2 separate regions of the Homo sapiens genome follow, and region 2 is linked to region 1. The links come from fine-mapping of genetic effects on gene expression. A gene starts in region 1. The other region holds a variant in brackets. All regions are shown on one strand. Distances are between the middles of the regions.

Region 1 (5,000 bases):
TTTAGGCAGGGTCTCACTCTATTAGCCTGGTCTCACTCTATTAGGCTGGAGGGAAGTGGTGCAATCACTGCTCAGTGCAGCCTCGACCTCCTGAGCTAGAGTGATCCTCCTGCTTCAGCCTCCCAAGTAGCTGGGACTACAGGTACAGGCCACTGTGCTGGCTAATTAATTTTTTTTTTCTTTATAGAAAGGGTTTTGACAAGCAATGGGTAAAGAATTTCCTAAATGGTGATGGGATAACTGGCTAGTCATATGCAGAAGATTGAAACTGGACCTCTACCTTACAGTTTATACAAAGTTAACTAAAGATGTATTAAAGACTTAATTGTAAAACCCAAAACTATAAAATCCCTGCAAGACAACCTAGGCAATACCATTCAGGACATAGGCATGGGCAAAGATTTCACGACAAAGATGCCAAAAGCAAAAATTGACAACTGGGATCTAATTAAACTAAAGAGCTTCTGAACAGCAAAAGAAACTATCAACAGAGTAAACAGACAACCTACAGAATGGGAAAACAATTTTGCAAACTGTGATCTAACAAAGATCTAATATCCAGCATCTTATAAGGAACTTATATTTACAAGAAAAAACCAAACAACCCCATTAAAAAGTGAGCAAGGGACATGAACAGACACTTTTCAAAAGAAGACATATATGTGGACAACATTCATATAAAAAAAGCTCAACATCACTGATTATCAGATAAATGCAAATCAAAACCACAATGAAATACCACCTAACACCGGTCAGAATGGGTATTACTAAAAAGTCAAAAAATAACAGATGCTGGAGAAGTTGTGGAGAAAAAGGAACACTTTTACACTGTTGGTGGGAGTGTAAATTAGTTCAGCTATTGTGGAAGACAGTGTGGTGATTCCTCAAAGACCCAAAGACAGAAATATTGTTTGACCCAACAATCGTATGACTGGGTATACACCCAAAGGAATATAAATAATTCTATTATAAAGACACATGCACACACATGTTCACTGCAGCACTATTCACAACGGCAAATATATGGAATCAATCTAAATGCCCATCAATGATAGGCTGGATAAAAAAATATGGTACATATATACCATAGAATACTATGCAGCCATAAAAAAGAATGAGATCATGTCTTTTGCAGGGACATGGATGGAGCTGGAGGCCATTATTCTTAGCAAACTAACACAAGAACAGAAAACCAAACACTGCATGTTCTCACTTATAAGTGGGAGATAAATGATGAGAACACATGGACGCATAGAGGGGAACAGCACACACTGGTGCCTTTTGGAGGGCGGAGGGTAGGAGAAGGGCGAGGATCAAGAAAAACAACTAATGAGCACTAGGCTTAATACCTGGGTGACAAAATACTCTGTACAACAAACACCCATGACACAAGTTTACCTATGTAACAAACTGAACTTAAAAGTTAAAAAAAAAAAAGAGGTTCTTATTATGTTGCCCAGGCTGATCTCAAACTTCTGGACTCAAGTGAACTTCCACCTTGGCCTCCCAAAGTGCCTGGCCTTAGATATTCATACATTTATTTATTTTTAGAGATGTGGTGGGGGTGTGGGGGGTCTCTCTCTGTCACCTGGGCTGGAGTGCAGTGGCCCCATCATAGCTCACTGAAGCCTTGAACTCCTGGACTCAAGCAATCCTCCCACCTAAGCCTGCCGAGTAGCTGGGACTACAGGAGTGCACTACCATGCCGGGCAAACACACTGATTTTAAGTACAACTGTGTGCTTTCAGTCTTAAGATCTTCAGCTTTTGAAGGACCTCAGCCTTCCTCTAGTTCTAACTCCTCTCGTTCTAAGGAGATCCTTCCCATTCCTGCAGAACGTCTCCCCAACCCTTCTTCTTCACAGTTCTCCCTCCTATCCCTGAACCATTGCAAGAGGTTTTGTGCCAAGCCTCTGGCACATGGCACATTCTATCTCATGTTGTGATTTCGTTTTCTATGCACGTGCTCTCCTTCTAGCCTGGAGGTGAGCTGCTTAAGGGCAAAGAGCTCATGTGTAGCCCTTCCTTGTACCCATTGTCCTATAGCAGGTGCTACCTAGGGGGTGCTCCAGTAGCTTCCTTGAATGAACCAAAGAGAAGGGGTGAAGGGGGGAGTCAGTTGCCTAGGAGCTTGCATGGACTTCTGTGTCCTGGAACCAGCCCGGAGCTGCTGGAAGATGCTAGAAGTTGGAATCCTATCTCATTTCTAAACATCTGCTCCCACTCATCTCTTTCCAGGGTCATCAGTTATCCCCACTCCTCCCCCCCGCCCCCACTTTGTATAAATGAGCCCCTCACATCCCTCCATCTTCTCCATCACTGTGTGGTCACTTCTTAAATCATGCGTCTGGAAGGCGCCCTCCTGTACCCCATCCTGGAGGCTTCCTGCACTTCCCCTCTTGTTTCTTCCAGAAATGAGTCAGAGTGAAAGCAAACTTTCTGAGGTCCTGAGATCCCGGAGACAGGCTGTGAGGGCCGCTGGCCCCGCCCGCTCCAGCAGCGTGTGTGTGTATGTCTGTGTGTGTGTGTGTGCGCGCGCGCGCGCGCGTCAGGGGCCAATGCTGGAAAGGAAACAGCGGACTCGCTGAGGAGAAGAAAGGAGCCGCCCCCTTCGTCGCCAGCCCCCTCCCCACTTCCCGTCCAGCGCGCTGCTCCCTTCCCCCCGCCTCTGGCCTCGGGGAAGGAGCAGGAGGCAGCCCAGGCGGAGCGGGAGGAGCTGGCAGCGGGGCGCATGCCAGGCGGGGGTCCTCAGGGCGCCCCAGCCGCCGCCGGCGGCGGCGGCGTGAGCCACCGCGCAGGTAGGGGAGCTGCCACAGAGTCCTAGCACGTCCTGGGGGGGTCCTGGCAAGGAGGGCGCGCTCTGGCCCCCAGGAAGTCGCGTAGGTCAGGGCGTGCCTCTGTTAACAACCCCTTTCGAGGTGAGGGAAACTGAGGCAGGACGCGAGGCGTGCGAGGTTGAGAGAAGAGCGAGTCTTGGGCTGCCAGCCCGGCACCAGCGCCGAGCCGGGCCAGGTCCCTGACCCAGGACTGTGCAGCGATCCCCGGGACCCGCAGTTTGCGAAACTGTAGGAGTCTGACCCGCGCCCCCGCTGCGTGTCCAGGTGACCGGGAAAGGTTGCAGAGGCGTGCTTGGGGTTTGGATCCGTCCCCGTCCTGGGACACCTGCGCCGCCTGCACTCTCGTTGCGGTGCGCCCCAGCCTGCGCCCCCTCGGGACAGGGGACGTCCCGCCCGCCTTAACCCCAAGACCCAGCTGGATCTCGGGTTCCACCCCTTCGGGGACCTGGAGGGAGGAGGCTGGGAGCGGGACCAGGAACTGGTGCCTGTGCCTTCCCTAGGGGCTGCTCTGAAATCAGTGTCACCGCCCACTTCCTACTTGGCTACAGTAACGGGGATGGCCCAAGCCGGAGACTGCTCGGTTTCCACCGCCTGGAGCGCGGGTCTCGCTGTCAACTCTTAGTGATGATTGTGGATGGTTGTTTTTCAACAATGACAGGACTTCTACCTTCTCACTCTTAAAATGTGAGGTTTTCCAAAGACAGTGAGATTTGGAGTTAGGGAGTGCTGCCTTGTGTTCTTGCTGGGTGAGGACAGGGCTGGGTCAGTCGCTTAACCTCTCAGAGCCTCAGTCTCCTGAAATGTAAAGGAGAACACTCATAGCCTGGCCTCCATGTGTCGTTAGGTTTGTTGTATGGGAAATCAATTTGCAAAGTGTTATCATCAACTGGACAAATTTGAATTGGACAGCACTAGGACCATAGGAACTGGGGTTTGGAGACAGTCTGCCTGCATGTCAATCCTGGACATGCAGGAGACTATGACAGTACCTGCTTCATAGGGTTGTTATGCGGTTTAACTGTGATGGTGGAAGTGAAGCACCTCGCCCAATGCCTGAAATACCCAGTGCACTCTCAAAAAACCTTAGTTGCTATTTTTCCTAGGCAAAATCTAAATAATTGGGAGTAATGTGAGAATACCAGTTTGATTTGATTAATGCAGGAATAGTAGGGCATTTAAAAACACATGTAGTTCTCCTGTGCTCGGCATGGTACATGAAGTCCTCTGAGGTTCAGTTCTGTGCCACAGAGCAAAAAGAACCGTGGACAAGATACCCGCTTTTCGGGCTCTTTGACTTTGAGCCTGTTTTCTCATCTGTTTACAAAAAAGATAAAAGAAAAATGGGGGTAGTAATTACTGCCTTTTGTACTGATCGCATTGCCTGAGGATTAAATGAGGCAAAAGATCTGAAAGCACCTTGTGGAGTATGAGTCACTATGCACATATAAGACATGATAGTACTAGGAGGGAATGGTAACATCTGCAGGTTTTTAGAACTTACAATGTGCCAGACATTTTATTATGAATTCCTTTGATGAAATCCTCCCTGCATCTTTATGGGACTGGGATTACAGTCCTCATTTCCCTATGACAAAGCTGAGGTTCAGGGTCACCCTGCTTGGTTCCCAAGCTCACAGAGCTCTTAAGTGTAAAGCCAGGATTAGAACCCTGGTGTGGGTGCCACTCACAACTGTGTTCTTGGCCGCTTGCCAAACTGAACTTATAGAGTGGAGCTGTGATTCAGAACAGACCTATATTAGAATTTAGGTAATTTTTTTTTCTTTAGGAGACAGAGTCTTGCTCTGTCACCCAGGATGGAGTGCAGTGGCACAATCATGGCTCACTGTAGCCTTGAACTCCTGGGCTCAAGAGATCCTCCTGTTCCAGCTTTTTGAGTAGTTGGGATTACAGGCGCATGCCACCATGCCCAGCTAATTTTTTTTTTTAGAGTTGGAGTCTTGCTATGTTGCTCAGGCTGGTCTCGACCTCCTGGCTTCAATCATTCCTCCCACTTTGGCCTCCCAAAGCGCTAGGATTACAGGCATGAGCCACCAGGCCCAACCTCCATCCTGCATATCTATAGACCCAAAATGTAAGAGTGAACTGTTAATCCTGGCAAAAGAGGCTTTGGCATAATTTTAATTTCCCTCAGACTTATTTTATA
Region 2 (5,529 bases), 21 kb before region 1:
AAGTCTAGCTCTGTCACCCAGGCTCCGCCTCCCGGGTGCAAGCGATTCTCCTGCCTCAGCCTCCTGAGTAACTGGGATTACAGGTGCTAATCATGCCCAGCTAATTTTTGTATTTTTAGTAGAGACAGGGGTTCCACCATGTTGGCCAGGCTGACCTCCTCAAGCACTCCTGACCTCAAGCAGTCCGACCATCTCGGCCTCTCAAAGTGCTGGGATAAAGGCGTGAGCCACCACGCCCGGCCCATTTATTTTTCTTATTTAAACATTTTCTTCCTTTGACTTGTTTGCTTGTGTTTGTTCTCAGTTTTTAGAATCATTAAACATTTTGGCCATATAGAAAAATATACAGAAGCCTGGCCGGGCGTGGTGACTCACGCCTGTAATCCCAGCACTTTGGGAGGCCGAGGCGGGCGGATCAGGAGGTCAGGAGATCGAGACCATCCTGGCTAACACGGTGAAACCCTGTCTCTATTAAAAATACAAAAAATTAGCCGGGCGTGGTGGCGGGCTCCTGTAGTCCCAGCTACTCGGGAGGCTGAAGCAGGAGAATGGCGTGAACCCGGGAGGCGGAGCTTGCAGCGAGCCGAGATTGCGCCACCGCACTCCAGCTTGGGTGACAGAGTGAGACTCCGTCTCAAAAAAAAAAAAAAAAAAAAAAAAAAATACAGAAGGCTTTTATTTTATTTATCTTTACGACCTTTTCCCCTGTTGTTTAGGCACTTGTGTGAGCTCAAGAAACATCTAATGAATCAAAAGATAGTCCTTTGGTGCTTTAGAAATGTGGTTTTGAGATTAAGTCAAATCAATAAGTCTTTATTGAGCGTGTGTTAAGTACAATAGCACAGACCAAAGCGCAAAGAGATTCTGGGGATTTCGACTTATGAGTTAATTCAGGCTCCACTAGGGCAGAAGCTGTTGTTCACTTTTCTCCTTCTTGGGTGACAGGTGGGTCTGCATCACAGCTGCTCTGGAGGAAGAGCAGCCATCTCTTCCTGCTGTCACCATTGCCTTGGTAGGACTGGTGTGTGTATGGGTGTGTACTTGTCTTTCTTAACCTTTCACTTTTGAAGATCTTCCTTCTTCATCTTGTCCTGCCCTCTGGAAGGTGAGAAGTTGCTTGTGTTATCTCCATTTGTGTGCAGTCTAAAATGGCTACAGGGCATTCTAAGCAAAGGGGCTCGAGGAGGAGATGTTGGATATCTCAGGAGAAGACCCTGAAGAAATCCCTTCTCCCTAGAGGAAAAAAGTCGCGGGCAGCAATCGAGATGGCTCTACCGAATAAAGCAGTTTTTAGTCAACTTCTACCACCTAGTGGCCATTTCTGAGAGGCTCTTTTCCCCTTTATTTATTTTTAAAAGTATTTTGACATATGCAAAGACATTTGTATCTGTCAATCCATGTTTTCTTTAAAAATGTCAAGATCAAAATAACACAGTGTCACAAAGAGAAGTAATCATTGCAAGAACTAAAACCCAGAGATGCTTAAAGATGGTTCTTGGGCAACCACTTATATTTTAGTTTGTTCCCTTCAGTCCTATTTGAATTTTTAAAATTCTATTTGAATTTTTATTGTCACATGTGTATGATACTTTTATAATATATATTTTAAGTTTTTAAATTTATAAAGGTCTTTTTAATATATAAATAGAGCCGGGCAAGGTGGCTCATGCCTGTAATCCTAGCACTTTGGGAGGCCAAGGCTGGCAGATCACCTGAGGTCAGGAGTTCGAGACCAGCCTGGCCAACATGGTGAAACCCCATCTCTACTAAAAATACAAAAAATTAGCCAGGGATGGTGGTGCACGCCTGTAATCCCAGCTATTCGGGGGGCTGAAGCAGGAGAATTGCTTGAACTGGGGAGGCAGAGGTTGCAGTGAGCAGAGATCTCGCCACTGCACTCCAGCCTGGGCGACAAAGTGAGACTCAATCTAAAATATACATACACACACACACACACACACACACACACACGTTTTGAGGGGTGTTAATTTCTGGCAATTAGTGCAAAAGGTGTATTAAATATGAATGTGAAAAAAGTTTAAAAGGAAAAATTTTAAATGTTTGTTTTTCAGATAACCTTATATAACATGGGAAATAAACATTACTTAAAAATTTACTTCATTTGCTCCTACTTCACCAAATCAAATGGTTTCCATTTCTCAGGTTGTTTTCATTCATTGATCGATATGCAAACGTAGTTTTTCTCTCATATATAACAGTCCATCCAGATTTTCTGACATGGGATCAGAATCTTTAAATGCTTCATTATAGAAACATCACCATCTA[C/A]AAGGGGGCATGAGTGAAATCAGTAGAATTTTCTTTGCTTGAGATCTCTTTTGCCAGAAGGGCAAGTGGCTTTTGTCAAATGAATTGTGTTTTGATGAAACAGTGTAGCTGATACTCAGAAGCCTGGAGCAAACCTTCTGGTACAGGAGAGGGCCCTTCTGTTGTGTAAGTTTTGCAGTAGCACAGACTGCATTTTTAGCTCTGACACAGTCTTCGTGATTTTGGACAAAAACTAGACTTTCAGACTCGATTCCTTGGTGCATTAGTTTGCTAGGACTGCCATAGCAAAGTACCACAGACTGTGGCTTAAACAGCAGAAATGTATTGTCTCACAGTTCTGGAGGCTGGAAGTCTGAGATCAACGTGTTGGCTGGGTTGGTTTCCTATGAGACTGCTTCTCTTGGTTTGCAGGCAGCTGCTGTCTTGATGTGCCCTCACGTGGTCACCCCTCAGGGTGTGTCTGTGTCCTGTGTCTGTGGCCTCATCTCCTCTTCGTATACGAATATCAATCATATTAGATTAGGGTCCACCCTTAATGACCTCATTTTAACCCAATTGCCTCCTTAAAGATCCTATTTCTAAATACGGTCACATTCAGAAGCACTGGGGCTTAGGGCTTCAGCACTTGAATTTTGGAAGTCACAACTCAGCTCATAGTGCCTGGCTTGGGAATATGGCTAATAATTTCGCCTGGCAGAATTGTGCAGTTGTGAGGTCATGTTTAGAAAACTCCTGGTGTGATGCCAAGGTGCACAGTAGCTGCTCAATGAACAAGCTGTTATTCCTACTTCAGTTTGGATTTTGAATATCAGATTTCCTTAAAGTGAGGAGCCCCTATAACAGAATCCAGGGATTTTTAAAATATTGGATCAAAATGCCATTCAGTCAACTAGGACCTGACACTAATCTATCTCATTGCATCTTCTCTGGCCTTCATGCTGCACCAAGACACTGCACGTACTAAATGCTCCACTTTTAGGAATGCTTAATTGTCCTGTCTGGGTCCACTCACTCCAGTTACTCCAGCTCACCCTGGGAGGCAGTAAGCCATCCCAAGAACCATGGTTAGGACCATAGGTCCTGGAGTCCCCAAGATGTCCAGCTCCATTGCTTACATCCTAGACATAGGCATGGTATTTAACCTCTTTAAAGCTTCAGTTTCCCCATTTGTGAAATGGGGGTAATTGCATCACTACTAAATCTGTAGCATTCTTTTGAGAACTGAAAAAAATGGTCAAAGTAAAGCCCTTGGCATAATGGTAACAGACAATAGATAAGCTCTTAATTTTAAAAAATGTTTAAAAATTTTTTCGAGACAGGGTCTCACTCTGTCTCCTAGGCAGGAGTGCAGTGGTGCTATCACAGCTCACTGCAGCCTCGAACTCCTGGGCTCAAGTGATCCTCCCATCTCAGCCTCCCGAGTAGCTGGGACTACAGGTGCTGGCACCATACCTGGCTAGTTTCGTTGATTTTAATTTTTTGGCAGAGTCTCGTTATGTTGCCCAGGCTTGTCTCAAACTCCTGGGCTCAAGCGATCCTCCCGCCTCATCTTGGTTTCCTGAAATGCGGGGATTAAAATATAAACCACCGTGTCTGGCCGGTAAACTCATTACTGTTGGCTTTTATTATGATTTTTATTTGCCTCCCAGTACCTAGGTATTTAATTATAAGAGGAATGCCCTTTCAGAATCCCTGTCATAGTATTGCAGTTAGCAGGGCTAGCTCCACTGCATTCCTGAGAAGTGATGCTTGGGAGGCTGATATCTCTCCTGCATCCTGCTGCTGCCCTATAAAGGAGGAGGGCAGTGGGGCTCAACTCCCAGCCTGCACACCTCCTCCTCTTCCTTAGCTTGCTGATCTTTCTCTTAAGGGCTTTTTCCTCCCTCTGCCTACCCCGGTAATGACTACCCTCTTTTCCATTTTTTTTAAACTTTTATTTTAGGTTCAGGGTTACATGTAAAAGTTCGTTACATAGGTAAACTCATGTCACAGGGTTTTGTTGTACAGATTATTTGATCACCCAGGTATTAAGCCCAGTACCCAATAGTTATCTTTTCTGCTCCTCTCCCCCCACCCACCCTCCACCCTCAAGTAGACACCAGTGTCTGTTGTTTCCTTCTTTGTGTTCATAAGTTCTTGTCATTTAGCTCCTGCTTATAAGTGACAACATGTGGTATTTGGTTTTCTGTTCCTGTGTGACTTTACTAAGGACAATGACCTCTAGCTCCATCCATGTTCCTGCAAAAGACATGATCTTGTTCGTTTTTACGGCTGCTTAGTATTCCACGGTGTGTATGTACCACATTTGCTTTATTCAATCTGTCATTGATGGTCATTCAGGTTGATTCCATGTATTTGCTATTGTGAATAGTGTTGCAGTGAACATTCGCGTGCATGTGTCTTTATGGTAGAATGATTTATATTCCTCTGGGTATACACCCAGTAATGGGATTGCTGGGTCAAATGGTAGTTCTGCTTTTAGCTCTTTGAGGAATCGCCATACTTCTTTCCATAATGGTTGAACTAATTGACACTCCCACCAACAGTGTATAAATGTTCCCTTTTCTCTGCAGCCTAGCAGCATCTGTTATTTTCTGACTTTTTAATAATAACCATTCTAACTGGTGTGAGGTGGTATCTCACTGTGGTTTGAATTTGCATTTCTCTAATGATTAGTGGTATTGAGCTTTCTTTCATATGCTTGTTGGCCGCATGTATGTTTTCTTTTGAAAAGTGTCTGTTCATGTCCTTTGCCCACTTTTTAACGGGGTTGTTTGTTTTTCTCTTGCAAATTTAAGTTCCTTATAGATGCTGGATATTAGACCGTTGTCAGATGCATAGTTTGCCAGTATTTTTTCCCATTGTGTATGTTGTCTGTTTACTCTGTTGGTAGATTCTCTTGCTGTGCAGAAGCTCTTAAGTTTAATTAGATACCACTTGTCAATTTTTGCCTTTGTTGCGATTGCTTTTGGTGTCTTTGTCATGAAATCTTTGCTCATTCTTTTTTTTTTTTTTTTTTTTTTTTTTTTTTCAGACAAAGTCTCGCTCTATCGCCCAGGCTGGAGTGCAGTGGCACAATCTTGGCTCACTGCAACCTCCGCCTCCTGGGTTCAAGCAATTCTCCTGCCTCAGCCTCCAGAGAAGCTCAGACTACAGGCGCACACTGCCACACCCAGCTAATTTTTTGTATTTTAGTAGAGACGGGGTTTCACCATGTTGCCCAGGCTGGTCTCAAACTCCTGA

Evidence for each region.
Region 2: its variant is fine-mapped to the expression of DISC1 in whole blood (TOPMed, PIP 0.98).

What each region holds. Positions count from the first base shown.
Region 1 is chr1:231,624,138-231,629,137 of GRCh38, forward strand. It overlaps DISC1 (DISC1 scaffold protein), which reads left to right and starts at 2,653. Exons shown (of 13, transcript NM_018662.3): 1 at 2,653-2,797. The coding sequence starts at 2,731. All of the region lies in intron 5 of TSNAX-DISC1 (TSNAX-DISC1 readthrough (NMD candidate)), which reads left to right. RefSeq lists silencers at 2,549-2,808, 3,139-3,198, 4,172-4,372.
Region 2 is chr1:231,602,883-231,608,411 of GRCh38, forward strand. All of the region lies in intron 4 of TSNAX-DISC1 (TSNAX-DISC1 readthrough (NMD candidate)), which reads left to right. The region is part of intron 1 of LINC00582 (long intergenic non-protein coding RNA 582); the gene reads right to left. Among named protein-coding and RNA genes, the nearest start is that of LINC00582, 6.4 kb to the right of the region's middle. The variant C/A (reference allele first, on the strand shown) is at 2,287.